Linked DNA regions of Homo sapiens: regions 1 and 3 are each linked to region 2. Evidence: fine-mapped expression QTL. A gene starts in region 2. Each other region holds a variant in brackets. All regions are shown on one strand. Distances are from middle to middle.

Region 1 (7,452 bases), 110 kb after region 2:
CCCAAGGTCTCTTGTTGCTTCCACCACTTGCTCGCTCTCTCTCTCATTCAGAAGCTGATGGACAGCAGGGACAGGGGCTGCCCAGGCGCCAAGCCCATGACTCCAGAGGGCCTCAGGATCGTATCAAAGAGTTTCAATCATTCAGCTGCCCCCAGAGCTTTGGAAAAGTTGTGACATATTCATGGCATGCACAAAGAAACACACCACTTCCAGGATCTGAACTCTGACCAGTTGTTTGTGGCATGAGCCTTTGGCACGCAGAGAATGGCAAAGGTTTCTACCGGGTGTGACTGAAGGGAGAGAGCCCTCTCTGTGCTGCTAAGAGAAATGATGGGAGAATAAGTCAAGATAGAAAAACATTGAGGAAACTATGCTCAGCACATTCAGAACAACTATATATTCCCTGGTGCCATGCTTTGCATGGGAGGCAGGGAGCAAACCTTCTGAAGTCAGCTTCCTGTCTCCAAATCACAGACCTCAGACTAGTCATCCTACCCTTTCACACCCGAGTTTCCATAGGGGGCAGTGGGAATTGTATCCCGTTCTTTCCCCTCCTGCGTCCCTCCATAGCAGTTCATGAACTTCCACCCCATTAACTCTCCTGTTGTATCTGCCAGCGACTGCCACAATTACGCCAAATAAAACGCCACCCCAAACTCACTGCTTCACATAATCATTTATTCTCACTCACATGCATGTGCCTGCCTGGGCGTCGCCTGGCTGGGAGCCCACTGGCCAGCAGGGCTTGGCTCTGGGCAGCAGGTAGGGCCAATCCTGCCTCCCTGCCTCAATGTCTCTCCTGCTCCCTGCAGCCAGGTCCCGGGCTTGCTCTCGTGGATGAGGTTTGAAGCTCACGAGCACATGTGGAAACATGCTAACCTCGGGACGCCTAGGATCAGGACTGGCATGTGTCCTTTAAACACACACGACTGGCCAAAGCAAGTCACATGGTCAAACCTCAAATCAAATGGTGAGGAAGCACATTCTGCCTCTGGTGGAAGAACTTCAAAGTCTCATGGGAAGGAAAGGGGGAAGGTTGGTAACAATAATACCACCTATCCACCCGGCGCGGTGGCTCACGCCTGTAATCCCAGCACTTTGGGAGGCCGAGGCAGGCAGACGTGAGGTCAGGAGATCGAGGCCATCCTGGTGAACACGGTGAAACCCTGTCTCTACTAAAAATACAAAAAAAAAAAAATTAGCCGGGCGTGGTGGCCGGCGCCTGTAGTCCCAGTTACTTGGGAGGCTGAGGCAGGAGAATGGCGTGAACCCGGGAGGCGGAGCTTGCAGTAAGCCAAGATCACGCCACTGCAGTCCAGCCTGGGCGACAGAGCGAAACTCCGTCTCAAAACAAAACAAAACAAACAAAAAAACCAATAACACCACCTACCACAACTGTGAAGAAAATAACAGGCATACGAATGCTAATGCAGTTTAAGATGCCCCATGTGTGCTATACACACTTCATATATCCACTGACCCTTGAACAGCATGAAGTGGGGGCACCGACCCCTGTACAGCTGAAAACCCGTGTCTAACTTTCAACTCCTCAAAAACTTAACGACTGATAAGCTGCTGTTGACCAGAAGCCTTACGGATAACATAAACAGTTGATTAGCACATATTTTATATGTTATATGTATTATATACCGTATTCTTTATTTTTTTATTTTATTTATTTATTTTTTTGAGACAGAGTCTTGCTCTGTCGCCCAAGCTGGAGTACAGTGACATGATCTCGGCTCACTGCAACCTCCACCTCCTGAGTTTAAGCGATTCTCCTGCCTCAGCCTCCCAAGTAGCTGGGACTGCAGGCACTCCCCATCATGCCCAGCTAATTTTTGTATTTTTAGTAAAGGCAGGGTTTCACCAAGTTGGCCAGGCTGGTCTCGAACTCCTGGCCTCAAATTGTCCACCCACCTCGGCCTCCCAAAGTGCTGGGAATACAGGCATGAGCCACTGTGCCCGGCCTATATACTGTATTTACAATAAAGCAAGCTAGAGAAAAGAACATGTTACTGAGAAAAGCATAAGGGAGAGAAAATATAATTACAATTCATTAAGGGGAAGTGGATCATCACAAAGGACTTCATCCTCAACATCTTCACATTGAGTGGGCTGAGGAGGAAGAGGATGAGGGGTTGGTCTTGCTGTCTCTGTCTTGGGTCGCAGAGAAGGAAGAAAATCCACTTGTTAGTGGACCCAGTAGTTCAAACCCAGGTTGTTCAAGGGTCAACTGTATTAACACATTTGTTCCCACCACAACTCTCTGAGTTCTATTACTATCTTTTTTTTTTTTTTTTTTTTTTTTTTTTTTTTTTTTTTTTTGAGATGGAGTCTCGCTCTGTCGCCAGGCTGGAGTGCAGTGGCGTGATCTCGGCTTACTGCAACTTCTGACTTCCTAGCTCAAGCAATTCTCCTGCCTCAGCCTCCCGAGTAGCTGGGATTACAGGCATGTGCCACCACGCCTGGCTAATTTTTGTATTTTTAGTAGAGATAGGGTTTCACCATATTGGCCAGGATGGTCTCGATCTCCTGACCTCGTGATCCGCCCACCTGGGCCTCCCAAAGTGCTGGGATTACAGGCGTGAGCCACCGCGCCCAGCCTATTACTATCTTTATTTGTAGATGAGGAGAATGAGGAGGAAAGACATTAAGTCACTTGCCTGCACCACACTCATGCTGGGGCTGGGATCTAGAGCCGTGTCTGGCTCTGCGCCCTGCACGCCTCTCACACGTGCATCCTGCAACACCACAGCAAGGTCTCTGCCAGTGAACTGGGGAAGGCCCACACAGGCTCCAGGCATGGGAAAACCTGGTCAGAAATGTGTGGCTTGTGACTGTAGGTTCCGAGGACTTGGAACTGGCCAGAAGAACAAAGGTTACTTCTGTTTTGTTCAAGGTCACCAGTGAGACCTTGGTTGTACTTAACATAGAAACTGGCTCAAGAACACAGTTGTGTTTTTGAACATCACCCAGACAACAAATGTCTTCCCCCTTGCTCAACAGATATGAACCACAGGTGCTGAGGAAAGAGGTTCAAGCTGAGAGAAGAAGAATGCAAACTACAGGGAGGTCCTGCTCCAAGAGAACAGGCCCAGGACACATCCACATCAGGGTTTTCAAATTGGGTTTTGGCCACCTGGTCTTCACCACAGCGTGGGTGTCTCGCCTCATCCCTATCCAGGATCCTTGTGTCTCTCAACTCCATTTTCCTAAAGTAATGGCTGTTGGGCAGCCCTGCTGAAAGAAAGCCTGTCTCTTCACATGGGGGAGACCATTATTATCTAGCAGGAGATAATCTGATGGATTTCAATGGCTTACTAAAAAATCAATTTATTGTAGAGCTGAAAGGCTTGCTGGTTGGTAAACAATGCATATCAAATTTTGTCCTTAAGATATTCAACCTCCAGCTGGCTTGTTGCACTATCCAGCAAGCTCAGAACTGGAATGTCTCCATTGTCGCTCAAGAATGAGGAGCAAAATAACTGTAATTTACTTTCAAAACTCCAACTTTAGTAACAAGCCAGAAATGGTGATAGGCATAAGCCATTAAGAATGATTGGAAAGGGCC[G/A]GGTGTGGTGGTTCATGCCTGTAATCCCAGCACTTTGGGAGGCTGAGGTGGGCAGATCACGAGGTCAAGAGTTCCAGACCAGCTGGCTAACATGGTGAAATCCCGTCTCTACTAAAAATACAAAAATTAGCCAGGGGTGGTGGCGCGTGCCTATAATCACAGCTACTCAGGAGGTTGAGGCAGGAGAATTGCTTGAGCCCAGGAGGCAGAGGTTCCAGTGAGCCGAGATCACCCCACTGCACCCCAGAGTGAGACTCCATCTCAAAAAAAAAAAAAAGATTGGAAAGAGATTGCCTTGCACTTTGCAATATAAACATATACCATGTGTATGCCAAAGAATTGCTTTATTGCAACGTCACCGGAGCACACACCCTCTGCTTTTCTAATGATGTATTTGTACTTTATTCAGTTGTCTGTAACCCAAGTGCACTGATGCCTCCCACAAACTCTCATAGTGGTCAGATGTGCCTCTAAAGTGAACCATCCATTGCATGTGTAAGAAAATGCTTCCTATGCTGACAATAAAAACGTAGCTTTGCAAAAACCTGCTGTGAACTTGACCTCACTTTGGTGAGGCAGTAACTGATGACTAACAAGTCACCTCTGCACAGGTTAATCCCCTGGCTGATATCAAGCGCCGAAGGAAGCGGATGTCCTTATTGCATAGTTGCTCGCCAAAGGAAGGCACTACTGGCATGAGAGAAATTGATGTCATTAGAAGTAGAGAAACCATGTGAAGCAGCCACTGGGCTGAGCCAGTGTTGTCAATTACAGGCTCCTTGGCTGGAATTCTGCAAAATCTTAAATAAGGTGTTAGGTGTTAAACTCACCTGTGGTGAGCATGGAGTTTCGCCCTACTCGGCCCTTTAAAGAGTCCTGGCAGGTTGTAGCCACTTTTCCTCCGGAATATACAAAGTTCCTCTCTCTGAATGAAGTTTTTTTTGTTGTTGTTGTTTTCTGAGATGGAGTCTCGCTCTGTCGCCCAGGCTGGAGTGCAGTGGCCTGGTCTCTGCTCACTGCAAGCTCCGCCTCCCAGGTCCACGCCATTCTCCTGCCTCAGCCTCCCGAGTAGCTGGGATTACAGGCTCCCGCCAACACGCCCGGCTAATTTTTTGTATCTTTAGTAGAGATGGGGTTTCACCGTGTTGGCCAGGATGGTCTCGATCTCCTGACCTCGTGATCCACCCGCCTCGGCCTCCCAAAGTGCTGGGATTACAGGCGTGAGCCACCGCGCCTGGCCGAATGAAGTTTAAAAATTTTTTTTTCTAAGGAAAAGAGGAGAAAGCAGGGTGGAGGAGGGGCTAAAAGCAGAAGCTTGGGCTTCATTGTCATTCTGTGAAGTGCCGGAGGGGCCACTGAAGAAGCAAGAGTCCCTGACCCTCTCCGCCGTTCCTTCTGCTTTGCAATCCCAGGGCTGGGGGGAAAAGGAGCGTGGGAGGAGATTCAAGGTAGATTCTGTGGGGGCTCTCAAGACCGAAGGATGCCAGGTACGCCTGAAGACAGAGCCACCGCTGGGAATCAGGGGCGGTAGGAATGTTGGCACCCCAAGTGTGGAGACCCCCCACCCTTTCCTCCCAGGCAGCTCTTGGCCCACTAGCAGTCAGGCTCATACCCTCCAGGGGAGCAAACTGTCCAGCCCAAGAGGAAAATCCTGAGGACACCAATGATGTGAGTTCCCAAAGATGTGGCTCTGCTGTGTCACCCTAAAATAGAGCTTGAAGTCAGCAAACCTCAGAGCTGCCAAAGAGATTTTTAATCTTCCGCTCTTAAATATGAGAAGATGATGGGAGATAACCCAATATCTGGGTAAACATTCAAATGTGAAACACAGAAACAAAAACAGACGAATCGAAAAACAGAAGAAAGTGACTTGCAATCACACTGGCATTAGTGTCCTCAGAAAGGTACGGGAAGATGTTGCATCTAAAAGAAAAGAGTAAAATCACACACACACACACATATGCACATACACATGGCACACACACATGCACACATACACGCACACACATATACATGCACACTCACTATTTTCAAGGAATGACTAGAGAATTAAAAGAGCTTTGGGAAATTAAGAAATTACAGCAGAAATTAAAGATTCAATAGATGGGTTTTGAATTCAAGTAAAGGTGAGTGAGGAAGTTTCCCAGAAAGTAGAGGAGGGAAAAAGACTAACAAACAAAAACAGAAAATAGCAGAGGAAAAAATGAGAAGATCCAGCTCCAGAGCTCCAATATCCTCATAACAGCAGTTCCATAGAGAGAGGACGCAGCAAATGAAGGTGGGTATCTCGTCAATAAAATTTGGGCCCACTGAGCGCCCAACACAATGGGTGAAAGTTGAACCACACTGTGCTACATCATCATAAAATTTCAGAAATTTGAGAACAAAGACCCTATTAGCTTATGGAGAAAAGAACAAACAGAAAACAGATTACATACAAAGACCAGGAATCAGGATGGCTTGGCACTTCCCAATGGCAACACTGAAGGCTAGAAATCTTAAAGAACATGATCGCTAACCTAGAATTTTATGCCCATCCAAACTATGAATAAAGAAGGGTATGGAATGGAGACATTTTCAGACATTCAAGACCTCAAAACATTCACAGCCTATGAATTCCAGTTGTTCTGTAATTGTTCCTGAAGATGTGCTCAACAGAAACAAGAATATAAGCTAATAAAAAGGAAAACATGGGCTTCCCAGAAAATGGGATCTAACGCAAAAGAAAAAAGGCAAAAGAACTCATCTGAGTGATGAAAGGTGACCCTAAGATGACACAGTGCACTGGGTACAGAGTATGACTAGTCCCCCAGAACTTCCTCCCTTAATGGTTCCAGACTAGCCTTGGCCAAAGAGACACCTTGCATGAGACTGAGAAGGTGAAGGTGAAGCAGCAGCCATGTACAGTGGAAAGGTGGGTGCAGGGAACCAGGAGTGGTTGCAGCTCACACACATCGTCAGCAACCTGTAGGCTCACCTGTAGCAGCCGGGCCTCTGCCATCCAGCTGCTGCTGAGCCTCCTCCATAGATTCCTTGGAATCCTGAGCAATTTTTAACTCTATGGAAACAAAAAGATGGGCAAGAAGAGAAATGCCATCACAATATATCATGTGTCTTAGCAGTGAATAGAATTTACATGGTAAATGTTTGTATCTCCCTGCAAATTCATATGTTGAAGCACTCACCTCCAGTGTGATGGTATTAGGAGGTGGGGTCTTTGGGAGGTGATTAGGTTTGGATGAGGTCATTAGAGAAGAGACCCCAGAGCTCCCTCTCGCCACCACGTGAAGACACAGCAAGAAGACAGCCATCTGCAAGCCTCACCGGGAACTGAATCGGCCAGCACCTTGATCTCAGACTTCTAGACTCCAGAACCATGAGTAATAAGCCACTCTGTCCGTCGTATTTTATCATAGCAGCCCAAGCTGACTAAGATGCATGCACATGATGATGTAAATGCTGAATGCTGGTTGCATCAAAGTTACTAGACAGCTGAACTGGGGAGAAAGCAGGATGGGAAGAGTGTGTGGGTGTTGAAGGCTGGGGGGGTGGGGGTGGGGCAGTTAAAGAGCTAAATGCTTACCTTCCGTAGAGGATGCCAATAGTATCTAAAACTGAAGCTTTCAGATACAGCAATATAAGCATGTTATTAAAAGACATGATTCATAATCATCGGCTAAAAAGTGGTTGCCTCAAAGGATCAAAAGGAAGAGGGAAGGGATTGCCACCCTCATAAGAAGCCATAAAGAACACAATGCCCACTATGTAAATATATACATAAAATTTTTTTTAACGGAAGTATCCATTTACAATGTACAAACTTAGAAGAACTGTTAAATACTTTACAGTACATCCAGTGACAGAACATTAGCCAACTG
Region 2 (7,452 bases):
TTCAACTTTCCTGGCAGGAGTCAAGCAATTCCAATGGACAGTAAAGTACCAAAAGTAATTTTCAGCCGAAATCTTTGTCAACCAACTGTATAGGGTTGCTCAATGCCTGATATGCTATTACAATCCTTCCCACTCCCGAAGCATGTGCTGGACCTAATGCTATTATCCCAGCATGGTAGTATAGTGCTAGTGTAGTGTGAATACACCATGCGGGACTCCTGCTTATTAGTTAAATAAGTGCTCGTCTATTAAACAACATCCAGAAACATCCCAAAAACACAAAAAGTCATGAACATGACTATGCACCCATAAAGAAAGTCAACCAAGGGTCTCAACATATGGTGAGTAAAACATCAATTTCCTGCTAATACTAAATGTCACTACTAAAAAGTTCCAAGCTTCAACCCCTTTGACAAGTTCTAAAAGGTACTACAAATGCCACAGAATTCCCGGAGTGGCATCAAAGCTTCAGCCTGTCACATGTCAGAGGTTACCTCCTAACCTCCTGGTCAAACACAAAGTCCCCCAAGATAAACTGAGAGGACATCTGTAAACAGATGGTCATCAGAATGTCCCAGCGTTTTACTAGAAGCGGGGCTCCGAATATCACATAATTTATCAGAACAGAAGAAGGTAACCCACTTATTCTGCAAATAAAGATATTTAATTATAAATACCTTACATCAAAAACAGCAAGGCCAGGAAGGAAAAGTTTGAAAATTTCTAACGCAAGCATTTAGCTGGATTTAATCACAATTAAAACCAAAGAAAAAAATTCCCCTTCAGCAGTGCCCCCCAAGTGACCCCCAGTGACTATCCTTGACTGTCCCCATTCTTCCTGATCCATAGAAAAAAAAACCCATTGCAGCAAAGTATGGCATTTAACTCAAGCTCAACATCCAAGGGTTTAAGTTCCTAACCTTAACCTTAGAGATTTGCAGTACTGCCTAATCCAGGTGCTAGAATGTTCCCAGCATTTCAGGATTACACATAGTGGAAGGACTAGGCATCACCAACTCCTTAAATGGTCAAAAGTAGAGGAATAAAGTTGTGTTTCTAAAGCAAATGATTATTCCAATAGATAATGTATTTTTTTTAACATTTAAGTGCTTTTCTCCATTTAAAGAAATTAACAAAACCCGGGTCCTTTCTTTTCTCATTTAAACCAGCATCCCATGCCCTCTCTCCTGGTAACTGTTCACAAGGTGGCAAGGGTGTGTAATAAGAAGCTGTAAGAAGCTTTTAAAACCAAATCATTGAAGCCATCCAGAGAAGATCTTTCGTCTAAAACAGAAGCAGCGAAGGCCCTAAAATGCGGCTGTACCAAAAATAATAATAATAAATATAAATGACCCCCGTGGGAATGCAACCCTGCCTGGGAGCCCAGGAGAAGACCTTGGCTTCTGGTTAGACACTGCCAAGTCCAAAAGGGCTGGGTCAAAAGGCTCCTGGGGCCTCCAGATTAACTCCTTCCAGACTACTAGAAGCATTCCTCCAAACCCCAGTCCCACTCTGCCTTCTGCCCTCCCCTCCTTAGCCACACCGCAGGCAGGAGGCCCGCGGGCTTCCCAGAGCAGCCATCAGAGCCCTGTCAGAAACGTTAAGGGCTAACTTTTCTCTAGGCAGGCCCAGGGTGTGCAGAGGGAGTGTCTGGGGACCCAGAGGAAGAAGGTCCCCGTTTCTAGGGAGACGCAAGGGCGATGCTAAGTTTAAGAGGCAGGGTAACAAGTCCGGCCAAGGAATCGGGGGTGAGCGACGGGACAGGAAGGCGTGCCCACTCCACAGGAGGATGGGACACACGTGAACAAGCGGCGAGCTGCCCAGGGGCCGGATGCCGCCACCAAGCAAGCGAAGTTGGAGGAAGAGCAACAGCGGAGTGGGCCAACGCAGGACCACCCGTGGTCTCCTCCGCACCTCATCACTGCCCCCCACGCCCAAGCACCCACCCACACACTCCCACGTGCCGTGGCCACTTCCGCCGAGACAGATACTCACCTTTGCCGCCGGCGCGGTCCTGCTGGTCGCCAGCTCCCGCAGACTGCCGGCGGTGCTGCCCGCGGCCGCGGAGAGGAAAACCGGGGAACCCGGGGTGCTGCCTGCCGCGCCGCCCCCGCCGCCCGCGAGCGTGGGGGCCGCACTCTGGCCTGGGATGGGACGCGCGGGCGGGCTGCCGCCGGGGCTGGTGCCCGCGCGGGGCCGCTGACGGATGCCGTCCAGCAGTCGCACCAGCAAGATGTTGGCGGGCAGTTCGTCCACGCCGCAGCCCACCAGGATGCGGCACTCGGGGCAGCGCAGCTCGTGGCGCGAGCACACGATGCTCTCCAGGCAGCGGCGGCAGAAAGTGTGTTGGCATGGCAGCACCTTGGCCGTGGTGTCCAGGCGCTCCAGACACACGGAGCACTCCAGCAGGTCCAGCAGCGACGACTCGTCCATGTCCTCGCCCGCCCCCGCGGCGGTGGCCGCCGCCCGACGCCGCCGTCGCTCGCCTGGCCTGTCCTCGTCGCCCTCGCTCTGCGCAGCAGCGGCGGCCGCCTTGGATGCGCACAGCCAGGACGCTCCGAGCAGCATGGGGGAGGCGCCCGCAGCGGTCTCGCGCGGCTGCCTAGGTCCCGGGGCCGGCGTGGAGCCCGCCACCGGCAGCCAGCATCAGGACTGGGGAGCCGGGCTCCGCCGTGACTTTCTTCACCCCGGCTGGTGGCCCGATGCTAGGGCTGTGGCGGTGCGAAGTGGCTCACCGACCGGCCTGCGTGGCGGGGACCGGCCTGCGTGGCGGGGACCGGCCAGCCGAGCCCGCCCAGTCCTGAGCGCAGCGCCTGCGGCTGCGGGCTACACCTGTCCCGCCGCAAGTCCGCCCCGCGCGGGGGACCGGGGGTGCTGCCGGGCACGAAGCTCAACGGGTTCTGTGCTGCAAGCGGCGGCTCGCGCCTGGGAGACCAGCGGCAGGAAGTGCGGGCAGCGGCCGGCCAGGTCCCCGGGGAGGCCGGGGCGCGGCGTGCACGCTCCTCCGCGCAGCTGGCGAGCCGCACCGCCCCCGCGGCACCTCCATGCGCCCCTGGCCTGCTCGCTAGTCGCTGTCCTCCAGAGGATTCAGCAGGACCGTTCCTCTTCCTCGGCCGCGAGCACGTGCGCGGGGGTGCGCGCGGAGGTCACGGTCACTGCGGGGCTCAGGGAAGGAGGCGCCGTGCCTGCAGGACTTCCCTTCGCTTGGGCGCAAGCCGGCGATTAGCCTGGTCCCCTAGGACATCTCCAGGGCTCCGGGGAACCTCTCCTGCGCAGGCTTGGCCCTGCCTCCTCCAAGCGTCCGAGTCTTTTTCGGCTTTTCGTGAGCCTCAGAGAGGGACGTTTCCTGCCAACGCTGCTGCGAAGGAAAGTTTGGGCGGCGTTATCCCGACTGCCTTCCTCGCCAGCGCCGGCGAGCAGCTTGGGGACACAGCCGACGCCCGGGCATCCTCCCCGACGACCCCCCGGAGCGCTCCCAGTTCAGACTCCTTTCCGAGAAGCGCGCAGAAGTGACAGCCCCGGAGCTTCGTTCCGGTGTAGGTGTGGGGATGCGCCGCAAGGCAGGAGGGGAAGGCGCTCCAGTTGAAGGGGGCACCCCGGGGCCCGCGCCGACTCCTCCCGGCGCAGCCTTGGCTCGCCGGAGTCGCGGGTCGGAGGCTGGCGCCGCTGCCCGCCGACCAGCACCCTGGCGCCAGGCGCCCGGCTCCACGCCGCACCCTTGGCGACGCTGTGCGAGGGGCTCTAGCGCCCGCCGCGGCGCAGTCTCGTGAACCCCCGCTCCAATTTTTTCCTACGGAGGCGCAGAGGAGGGTGAATTCGCGCTCTCCTTCCCGACGCCCCGGCTTCTGGGAGCGTCAGAGCAACGGAAGTACGTACAGGAGGACCGAGAGCAGCAGGGAAGTTTGGCGGTGGGCTGGGGTCGGCGGCGAAGATTCCCTGCCGTGCGCTGCCCCCTCGTGGCCGCTTTGCGTTCCCGTCGGGAAGGGCTGGGTTCCAGTCCAGGGCCCAGCACAAACCAGGATTGGTTGGACGCTGCACAGCGAGTTCAGTCAGGGCTAACATCAGAAGAGTCGTGGGGGGCCTGCCTATCGGCCAGCCTGTCCTTGTGGTTTGTGAAGTTGTATGATCTTTCTGTTATTATTAAGGAAAAAAGTAGTATTTGTTGAGGCTAAAAGGCCAAGAGCGTGCTATATATTATTTAATCCTCTAAACAGCTCTGCCAGATAATTATTTTATTTATTTATATTTACTTCCATAGCTTTAGACAGGATCTCGTTCTGTCAGGCAGGCTAGAGCGCGGGGTGCTATCACGGCTCACTGCAGCCTCAAACTCTTGGGCTCAAGCCATCCTTTCACCTCAGCCTCCTGAATAGTTGAAACTACAGGTGCGCCACCACGCCTGGCTAAATTTTTAATTTAAATTTTTTGTAGCGACAGGGTCTCCTTATGTTGCCCAGGCTAGTCTCAAACTCCTGGGCTCAAGAGATCCTCCAACCTCATCTTCACAAAGTGCTGGGAGTACAGGCGCCAGCCACGGTGCCCAACCTGTGATAATTATTTTAAACTCATTTTACAAATGAGGAAAGTGATATTCATACTTGTAAAGCCATTGGGGCTGAATTTTCATTTTTGTATCCACAGAACTAACACATAAAGTTTACATGCCATTAGAATGTAAGCTCTCTGTAAGCTACAGATCTTTTCTACTGTAATATCCTTAGTGCCTAGGGCAGTGACTAGCATATAGTAGGTGTTCAATAAATATTTGTAGAATTAATGAAAGGATACGTCTCTCTTTCTCTCTCTCCCTCTCTCTCTCTCTCTCTCTCATCACCTACTGGTGATTTGAAGGCAGATCTTAGTATCTCAATTACACATATCCTGTGCTTATATCAGGATGCTAGTCCCTGGAAACTTTGCTTCTGATAGCAGCAGGTGGCTTTCTTAACCTGGATGTCTCTCAGCAATGTGGATTTCCATCTGTATGATTTACATCAGCGCCAACAACAGGGTGAGATGGAAAGCATCCCAGAGCTGCCTGGCTTCCCTTGAGGGCCGAAGGAAGGGCACACACCTCGCAGTGCATGGAAACATGTTCACATGAGCCACCTTTCACTCTTACCCTTGCTCAGGAACAAGGGGAATTTTTTAGAGCACCCAGGATGCTTGATCCAAGAGCAGATGGTAGACAAGGGGGAGCATAAAGAGGGGACCCATCAGGCACTGGAAGGGCTCACAGAGAGCAAGGACGGCCTGTGACGACATGCCCTGGTGCTTTTGGTTGCAAGCAACAGAAACCAACTCTAGGTAAATTTTAAAGGGAGCAGAATATACACTAATAATACGAGGCATCTCATAGGATCCCAGGCTAAGAGCTGAGCCAGATTAGCACAGATAGAGCCTGCAGTGTGTGTTGCTGTCCCTGTCTCTAGTTGATGACTCAACCCTTCACTTTCTTGCACCAGCTGCCTCTGCTTCCCAACCCACATGACAGAAAATGCGGTCAAATCTTCATGAGCCTTTCTTCCAACAACATCAGCCACTCCTGGAAGTTCTAAAACTCTATCACTAGTATGGACCAGTGGTCACTCTTTGGACCCGTGTGCCTTGGCCACAGGAGCAGGATCATCTGGAACCTGGCAGCACTCTCTGTAGTCACACAGGAGAAGTGAGAATTTCCAGAAGAATTGCCGTGCTGGGCAGTCAGAACCACAGATGCCCGTGCCAGAAGCTCACCGCCACATCTCTGCCCTCAGTACATCTTTATCTTGCACGACCCAAGACAGACAAGAGCAAGAGAGAGCCACTTAAGCCCACCTTTCCCAGCTTTCTTCTCTCTCCACTTTACCCCTTTTGCCCCTGCCATAACCAGCACCCACAGGACACACAGACTATGCACCCAGATGTCCACAGTGACTGGGCAGGGCATGAAATTAACGAAGCAGGGTGAACCCCAGGCAACAGGGCCTGGTGGGGACTGCAGTGAGCTTTGTCTGCACCCTTCAGAGGAAGTAGCTGCTGCCCAGCTCCAGCCCTGGGGGAATGACGACCAAATGTTGCTAGACCTTCATACCTTTCAAGAGAAGTTGGAAGTGCTGCTTTTTACATGACATCTCCTGATGTTCAACAGTTGGCAACCGATTTAGTTCTCAAAAACCACCATATTAGCCAAACAAAATAAATGTGTGGTCAAATTGGCCTACAGACCGCCAGTTTACAATTTCTGGTTGAAGTAGCCAAGTACACTGTGCTACAGCGTGAGGGAATTTGAGGGTGTGAACTAAATAGTTGAAGTATTACAAATACAGTCTTATGTTACTCGGTTAAATTTGCACATGTTCAATAAGCCAATTATATAAGTAAATAATTGAGAAGACCTGGCTTTACAGCCATTCCTAAAAAGATCTGGGGATTTCAGTTGACCACAAGCATTGTATGAGCCAACATGAGTCATCTATGTACTATGGCTGACTAGAGAAGTAACGAAATCTTCGGATGCCTTCATGAAAGTTAAGGTGGGGGGTGGTCAGGGTTTGGAAAAAAATAATCCCATTGTACCTCAGACTTGTGAGATTACTTCCAATTCTGGGTACCAAAAATTAATGACGATGTGGTAAGGGATCCGGAGGCCTCATCCATGAGTTTCAGTTGAAGGAACACAGGGCGTCTGTCCAAAGGAGAAAAAGCTCAGAGGAAACAGGACTGGACGGCTGTATGTCAGGTTTTTGGCGGCCCAAAATTTGAACTTCTTTTTAGATTTGGAAGACGCTCCACATGGTGATAGTCAGATAATTCTAACCCCCCCACCAACTCTGCTAAGGTGTGGGAATGTGACAGGCTCAGCTAGTCAAAAGCTGCCCCTCCCCCACCACACTCTGGGAGGTGGAGGGACGTGGGCAGAGGAAGCACCGAGAGTTCAGCAGCTATGGGGCAGGTGGCTGGCAGCAGCAGTGCCTGCAGCCTGTAGCATCTCAGAGTGGGGGCACGCCTTGGCAACAGGCCAACCCCAGACTTGACTGCCTGGTGAGCCTGGACTGTAGCCTCCACTGCTTTCCTGGCCTTGCTGTTGATCTTATGGGTTTTCCAATTTCATTTCCTTAGTTTCTTTTTCGTTAAATCAACCAGAGTCCATTTTTGTTGTTTTCAACTGGGAACCCAAATTGATGCACATTATTTACGATAAACAAAGCCCCTCTATATGAGACAATCATCACTGCACTGAACAGCAGCTATAGTTGCAGAACCCTGGAGGATCTCCGCCAGGCATTGCACCGTGTGGGGTTGAGGAAGGTTTAGTCAGGCAACCCTAAACGTACTCATTTGGGGCAAGAAGAAATCTGATACAGGGAGACACAAGATTGGAAGTTACTGGTTAAAAACTAACACAGGACGACAACAAAGCAAATCCACTTAATGCCACTGAACTGTACACTTTAAAATGGGTAAAATGGT
Region 3 (7,452 bases), 76 kb before region 2:
GCTTGGTGGGAACAGCTCTGCTGCAGGTGGGTCGGTTGGTGCTGGTGGCTCCACTTCCAAGAAAGCTCAATCACATGGAGCTTAGCTGTAACTGTTACTGGGAGCCTTTGCCCTTCTCCACAGGGCTTCTTGGGCTTCCTCACATGATGGCTGGGCTCCTAGACAGCAAGTGTTCCAAGATACAGGAAGCATAAGCTGCCCATCCCTGAAGACCGAGCATGGGAAACTTCTGCTGTATTTGATTGGTCAAAGCAGCCATGGAGCCCAGGTTTAAGGGAAGGGATATGCCCCACCTGCAGGTGGCAGGAGTGTCTGTGGATCTGCAATTCTGCAACCATATCGAATCCATCACATGAAGATGTGAACTAAAACCTCAGCTTTGCTCTGCCAGCAGAGCCAGGTAGGTGCCACAGGGCAGTTGCATGCTGTCTCAGCAGAGCTTAAGCTCAGACTCTGAGCCCATGGGGGCAGCAGCATGTGTGTCTGAGGGCCCAGCACTGTGCCCAGCACAGGCATTCCGTAAATATTTGCAGAATTGTTGAATTTAACAAATCGCATGCTAAAGTTTCTTCTTCTTTTAAATCTCACCAGAATTTAAAAATGGGGGAGGGGGAATGCTCAACTGTGTAAGAGTAAAAGAAGGAATTCCAGATTAGAGCAAAACTAAGCCAAGATCCCTGGGAAAATGATGATACAGGGAAACTGCCATAGGCCAATTTGTTAAATTGGTCCCCAAACAATATGAGGTATAGTTTAATTTTTTTTAAAAAAGAAAATTGTGCCATTTAAACTGATCAAAATCAGTTATAAACCTGAATACAGTTGATTTTAGCAATTTACAACATAAAATAATTCAGTCTCAGGTAAGTCTTCCTATACAAATGTTTTGTTTCCATGTGAAAATAGCTTTCCAAATTCTATAGGTGGCACCTTACATCATACAGCAACTGCACCCCTGGAAACAATCTTAGGGCTCCATTGCATCTTTATTTTCCACAATTTCAATATCTTAATAGCACACAAATAACATTTTGTTCCTAAGAGAAACACTGTTTTACCATGAAATTCCATGACATGCATCTCTCCAAAGGCAGATGGTTCTGCTGCATAACATTATTACATATATAATTACCTACATCACAAATATTTTCAAAATCGAAACTGCCAAGCCTTCTTGCCTGTCACTTTTTCTTATGTTGTCTCCATAGCAACCTGCTTCCCTCCCCCAGAGACAAAGAGAACACAGAAGACATCTTTAAATTGGCATAAATTAGAGACAAATTCTTTAATCAGACACACAGCTTACTCTAATGATTACCATACACCAAAATTATCCAGAAATAATAATTGTAACTCATAAAAATGAACTGCTGTAAACAGACCTGTTTGCACAAGATGAGAGCATAGTTCTAAAATGTGGCACTGTGTCGTCATTGCACCCTCACCCCCAGTTTATCATCCTCTACAGCACACACAGCCCTATCTGCCTTCTTCTTGAGCGCACTAAGCTCCCCAGGCCCTCTCCTCCAAATGAGCATGGTCAGGTTCTGCCTCAGGCCCTGAGTGGTTCTCACCTCCTGCAAATGCAGCGCTCAGCCAAACAGAGGTGTGTTGAAGTTCATTCCAGGCAACCATAACAAGCCACACATGACACAGAGACATGCTATCCCAAACACAAGCTTATGGCCCATGACTGGGCAGAAGGGGCACTGAGAATGCTCAGTCAACTTTGACAATTAGTGCAGAAATAGCAAATGCCAGAGTTAAGTAACTAATAGTGTCTCTCTCTTGTCACCCAGGCTGGAGTGCAGTGGCACAATCATAGCTCACTGTAACCTTGAACTCCTGGGCTTAAGCAATTCTTTGACCTCAGTCTCCTGAGTAGCTGGAATTATAAGCATACACTAATATGCCCAGCTAATTTAAAAAAAATTTTTTTTTTGTAGAGACAGGGTCTTACTTATGTTTCCCAGGCTGGTCTTGAACTCCAGCCTCAAGCTATCCTCCCTCCTTGACCTCCCAAACTGCTGGGATTATAGGTGTGAGCCACCACACTCAGCCTCCTCTAATTCTTTTTTTTTTTTTTTTTTTTTTTTTGAGACGGAGTCTCACTCTGTCGCCCAGGCTGGAGTGCGGTGGCACGATGTTGGTTAACTGCATGCTCTGCCTCCCAGGTTCACGCCACTCTCCTGCCTCAGCCTCCTGAGTAGCTGGGACTACAGGTGCCCTCCACCAAGCCCGGCAAATTTTTGGTATTTTTTAGTAGAGACAGGGTTTCACCATGTTAGCCAGGATGGTCTCAATCTCCTGACCTCATGATCTGCCCACTTCAGCCTCCCAAAGTGCTGGGATTACAGGCGTGAGCCACCGTGCCCGGCCCAGCCTCCTCTAATCTCGACCATAGTTAAAAATATAGTGCTGTGTCCCCAGAATAACATTCTACACCAAGCAAAACCTCCAGGGAGAGAGGGGTGGCTTGGGTCACCCATCCATTCACGTGCAGGTCATACAATGCCCACCGCGGAGGCTGGAAAGGCATCTCAGGGTACAAGTGACAGTTCACCAGGTTAGTCTCCAACTACTACTTGGCCTTGAAACACTTTTGGAGTAAACATGGTAAATCTCAATGTTACAAAGAGCTCAGAAAAACACACATCTACTTTTTTAAGTCAACAAATAATTCATAACCCTTCAGTTGGTTTCTATGAAAAAACAGGAAGCGGAAAGGAGAAAACTCCAACTTTAGGCTCAAGAGTATTTTACACACACAGTGTGCTTCCCTGTCTCTGATCCCCCCGCTGCTTCAGGGAGGCTGCTGGGGAAGGCTGCACAGAGCGGGGCTGCCTTCCTGCCAGTGAGCAAAGTGCACTGCCCCGAAACAACACCTCTGCCCAGAGATCTAGGGCAGATACGGTGCAGACCCTGACACCAACAGACTGAGCCATGTGATTCTCACCGTGGCCTTCTCCCATCTGATGAATATACCCTCTGCACCCCTAGAATGTAGTTTCTGTGTGAGCATAAAGAGTCACATAAGTTGGGCGGGGCACAGTGGTTCACCTGTAATCCCAGCACTTTGGGAGGTGGATGCAGGTGGATCACTTGAGGTCAGGAGTTCAAGACCAGCCTGGCCAACATGGTGAAACCCTGTCTCTACTAAAAATACAAAAAACAAAAACAAAAAATTATCTAGGCATGGTGATGCATGCCTGTAGTCCCAGCTACTCAGAAGGCTGCGGCAGGAGAATCTCTTGAGCTGAGATTGAGCCACTGCACTCCAGCCTGGACGACATGGCAAGACTCAGTTTAAAAAAAAAAAAAAAAAAGTCACATAAGTTGCTCTAATTTTTTTTATCTTATTTTATTATTTATTTATTTTTAGAGACGGAGTTTCACTCTGCTGCCCAGGCTGGAGTGCAGCGGCATAAACATGGCTCATTGTAGCCTCAATCTCTTGTATTCAAGGCATCCTCCTACCTCGGCCTCCCAAGTAGCTGAGACTACAGGCATGTACTTCTATGCCCAGTTAATATTTTTAGTTTTGTAGAGACAGGGTATCACTATGTTGACCAGGCCGGTCTCAACCTCCTGGCTTCAAGTGATCCTCCTGCCTCAGCCTCCTGGAGCACAAGGATTACAGGCATGAGCCACCATGCCCACCCAGTTGCTCTACTTTAAAAGGCAGACTTCTAAAATTATTTCCCTGGAACACAAAAAAGCCTTTAGTTTAGCCCCCACTTCCACGCTACAGAAAATACAGGGAATCAAGAAACAAGTTCAATGGCACCATCAAGAAATGACCCAATAAATCTAGAATGCAGGACATTTGACAAAATAATTGGCTTGGTCTCTTCAAAGGGTCAATACCTTCAAAAGCAAAGTAAGAGACTGCTAGAACAGTTCTCCAATGGGGCATCCTGCCTGCCAGCAGGTCCCTGGCAATGTGTGGGTTGTCACACCTGGTGGTGGAGTAGGTGGCGCTGCCGGCACCTGGAGGATGGAGGCCAGGGACGCTGCTGAACACACCCATTTATGTGTACATTGTACATTGCACACAAATATATGTACAATGTTGAGAAACTAGTCTAGAATAAGGGAGATTGGAGGGGCATAACAAAAGCCACAAGTGAACCCAGTTTTAACAAAAACTACAGCAGATTTTTAAGGGACAATCAGGAAAACCTGAATGTGAACTGGTATTGATAATGATTTAAAAGATAAGATAAGGAGATT[C/G]CTGCTAACTCTCTTAGGTGAGATAACAGGATCACAGAAGAGTGCCCTTATTCTGCAGAGGTGTCTGCTAAATTATCTAGGAATGAAGCAACAGGGCATAAGCAAAGTAAGTTTCATGGTTCACCCAAGACAGACAGACAGACATACAGACAGATAAAAGGAAAGAGCAGATGTGGCAGAGTTAATGGCTGAATCTAAATGGAGAAGAGACAGACCTTCACTGGATTCTCCTTACCCTCTTCGCCTTGTCTGAGACTGTTCATGACAGCCAGTGGGCAGGAGGTGCAAATCCAGGCATTTTTCGAATGGCCTCCTGACGTCTCAAAGATATAAACTACTCGGGTTTTCACACTCAGAGCCCCTTCAAGCCCACAAATGCTTCACACTGGAGCACCGTGCAGATGCTCTGCTGGGAGGCCTTGGGGCCACAACAGCACACACATCAGCCCTGCCATCAAGGGCTGCCAGGCCGCACAGGGAACAAGAAGGGCCCAGGGGTAGGTAGCGAGGCACCCACACAAGAGAGCAAACGCTTCAGAGTCGAGGCGTGCATGAGACAAAGGGCAGGAATGGATGGACCGAGGGTGTGAAAGGTATGTGGGTTCTGTGGGCTGGGCAGAGCATACCCATGGAGAGAAGATGGGGCTCCAGGCCCAGGGGGTGGAAGTGCAGGGTGCACAGAGACACAGGGCCAGGACACTCACATGGGGTGCACAGAGACAGGGCCACGATGCTTGTCGTGCAAAGGGAAAGTGGAGAACAGTGTTCCAGAGAGCTGGACGAACCACATGGAGCAGTCCCAGAGGGCTCCAAATGCATGCCCTGGGATCAGAGCAACTGCATTCAGGAGGCAATGGGGAGCGGTGGGACTTAGGAACTAAGAAGCGACTTAAAGAATATGTCATGGCCAGGGATACAGTGATCGCCTGACCACAGGTGATGCGCTCGTAGGGACGCGGAAACACCCTCCCAAGGCCATCCGTCTCACAACAGGGCAGCATAAGGACTAGCAAGCTCCGCCGCATCTGCGCCACTGTCTGCTGCGTCCACCTGAGAGAGCCACCTGTAGCCTCTTAATTACAGCCACACAGCCTGCCTCATCCTGATGCTGCCCTGGGGCTCTCTGAAGAGGCTCCTGGCTCTCTGCAGGGTCCTTCTTGCGGGCAAGGCATCCTCAATGAGGATGTCACTCAATGAGTGGACAGTGCTCCTTGACTGCTGAGGACACGGACAGGCCCAGGGCACCGTGCAGGGCCACCAGTGTTCCAGGCTCGACGGAGCTTCTGTAGCCTTTGGAGCCTCTTCCCCTCCAATCACTGTAGGACCATGGCCAGGCCAGTATCCTCAGGCCCAAGTGTTACCTTGTTAGGCACAAGTGTTATCCTCAGGCACAAGACCAGCTCCCATTGTGTTTGCATTCCTTCCATGACACCTACACTCTAAAACATTACTATCGGGACAAAACTGTGCTAATCAGCCAAGCAGTTGTTCAGTCCATAAATTCTGCAACACTTAAAGTTGGGCCCTTTCCCGGGAATGGGGCTCTCGACCCCCTTTGCTTAAATGTGTGTATGATCCTAAGAGCTCCATAGTATGGGAAGGGCTGTCGACAGCCCCACGGGAAGGCCGTGGCGTTTCCAGATGGGGAAACTGAGGCTCAGGGAGAGAAGGTGCTCACCCAAGGCTGTGTGCTGGCTGTTTTCCCAGGACCCAGGTTCCTGGGGCCGGGCTGACGCCTCACCCTCTATGCTCTGAAAAAGGAATTCTCAATTTTTAAAGAATAATCACTGCTGACTGCTGGGAGGGGAAGGAGAAAGCAGCCATGCTGACCACCCACCAGCTACCCAGACATGTGAGGAACAAGAACGCGCCCCAGGGACAAAGAGAAAAAGTACTGTGTAATTGTAATTGTACTACATTTAGTAATTGTACTAAAAAGTACAATTAAGTTCGGGCAATTAGGTGTCCCTTCACAAAATCTCAAACAGAGAGTGGAAAGCCCAAAGCAGCCGAGACACACTCCTAGGGAGTTTCATTATCCATCGCTCCCCTCCGAGGGGGTCCAGACGCTGCCGAGATGGACCTGGGAGGCAGCACTGGAGGCAAGGTGGGGGCCGCATCCTCACTCTGCAGTCCACAGGTGGCTTGGGAAACAAGGGAGGGAAGAGAAGGGTTGTTTTCTTCCCCGTGTTCATCTACAAGCTGTAAGTGCGTCCATATGCTGATCTGTCAAGATGAGAAAGTGGCCGAGATCGCCTCGAGGGGAGGCTGTGTGCCTCCTGCCAGCTGTGCTGTCACGAGACCCAGCCAGGCTCCAAGGCAAATACAATGTGGCCTAGGTTCTGTGCCTGTGTCCCGTTTCCTTTGGACATATTACAGGTTACTTTAATTAAAACATTTGCTTCTCCACCAGTTTTTTTATGATGCCACGGGTCCTTGTATTGATTTCAGATGTGTCAGACTCATTGGTAGGAGGCTTAGCAACACAGGACATAATTCTCCCTGGAGGGAGGGCACTATGCCCCATTTAAATAACCCAAGAGATCAGCTGAGCAGCATTTATACCCACTTCCCAAAGCTCATTTCCTACCAATGCTCCTTTCACCGCTTGGCTGTGCCCCTGGGCTGTACGTGGCTCTCCATGCAAGGCGCAGCGTTTCCCATGCTGCTGACGGGCTGGAGAAGTGGGCAGACACTTGCCTCCTGACACAAACGTCCCAAACGAAGGCCATGCTGTGAGAGGCCCGGCATGGTCCCAGATCACACTTTCAGAGACCTCAAAACTGAAAGAGGAGGAGAGCAACTTCCAAACCAGGGAGGGGAGACCCTAGCAGGAGACAGCAAGGGTGGCCTGGGGTAGCCAGGGGGAGAGAGAGATAAGAGAGAGAGAGGTGGGACTGCTGGCCTGTGGCGGCTGAGATACCTGGATGTGTGCCTGGAGACAGAGAGATCCGGGAAACAGCCTGCACACAGGCAAGGGGCCAAGGCCCAAAGCCCAGGCCATGTACCTGTGGGTTCTAGGTCACAGATCAGGGAGGCCTGTGGGAGAGTGGGGCTGGGGTCTGTCTGTGAAAGGCTTCAAATACAAGGCCAGCAAAATTTTCACTTTGCAAAATGAGTTTTTAAGTGCAGAAGAGGCAAAACTAAAGCATCATTTCAGGACCGTGCATCTTGCAGCCATGCAGAGGCCGCCGGAAGGAAGACGTGTGAAGCCAGAGC

Which allele goes with the higher level. Alleles are on the strand shown, and positions count from the first base shown. SD is a standard deviation of normalised expression in the study named. Not every link is listed here.
In carriers of allele G in region 3, the expression in lymphoblastoid cells of the gene that starts at base 2,904 in region 2 tends to be lower than with C alone (moderate effect, 0.56 SD a copy in TwinsUK).

Evidence for each region. PIP is the estimated chance that this variant, and not a neighbour inherited with it, causes the effect. A credible set is the group of variants that fine-mapping cannot tell apart.
Region 1: its variant is the best candidate, but not a certain one, in a credible set for the expression of SH3RF3 in whole blood (INTERVAL, PIP 0.83).
Region 3: its variant is the best candidate, but not a certain one, in a credible set for the expression of SH3RF3 in lymphoblastoid cells (TwinsUK, PIP 0.70).

What each region holds. Positions count from the first base shown.
Region 1 is chr2:109,009,995-109,017,446 of GRCh38, reverse strand. It overlaps a transcript of RANBP2 not described here. Among named protein-coding and RNA genes, the nearest start is that of EDAR, 25 kb to the right of the region's middle. The variant G/A (reference allele first, on the strand shown) is at 3,575.
Region 2 is chr2:109,124,657-109,132,108 of GRCh38, reverse strand. SH3RF3 (SH3 domain containing ring finger 3) reads right to left here and starts at 2,904. Exons shown (of 10, transcript NM_001099289.3): 1 at 1,996-2,904. The coding sequence starts at 2,568. SH3RF3-AS1 (SH3RF3 antisense RNA 1) reads left to right here and starts at 1,990. Exons shown (of 1, transcript NR_029193.1): 1 at 1,990-4,782. It also overlaps a transcript of RANBP2 not described here. RefSeq lists silencers at 2,889-3,088, 3,119-3,168, 3,179-3,248, 3,629-3,688.
Region 3 is chr2:109,201,136-109,208,587 of GRCh38, reverse strand. The region is part of intron 1 of SH3RF3 (SH3 domain containing ring finger 3); the gene reads right to left. It also overlaps a transcript of RANBP2 not described here. Among named protein-coding and RNA genes, the nearest start is that of MIR4265, 63 kb to the right of the region's middle. The variant C/G (reference allele first, on the strand shown) is at 4,234.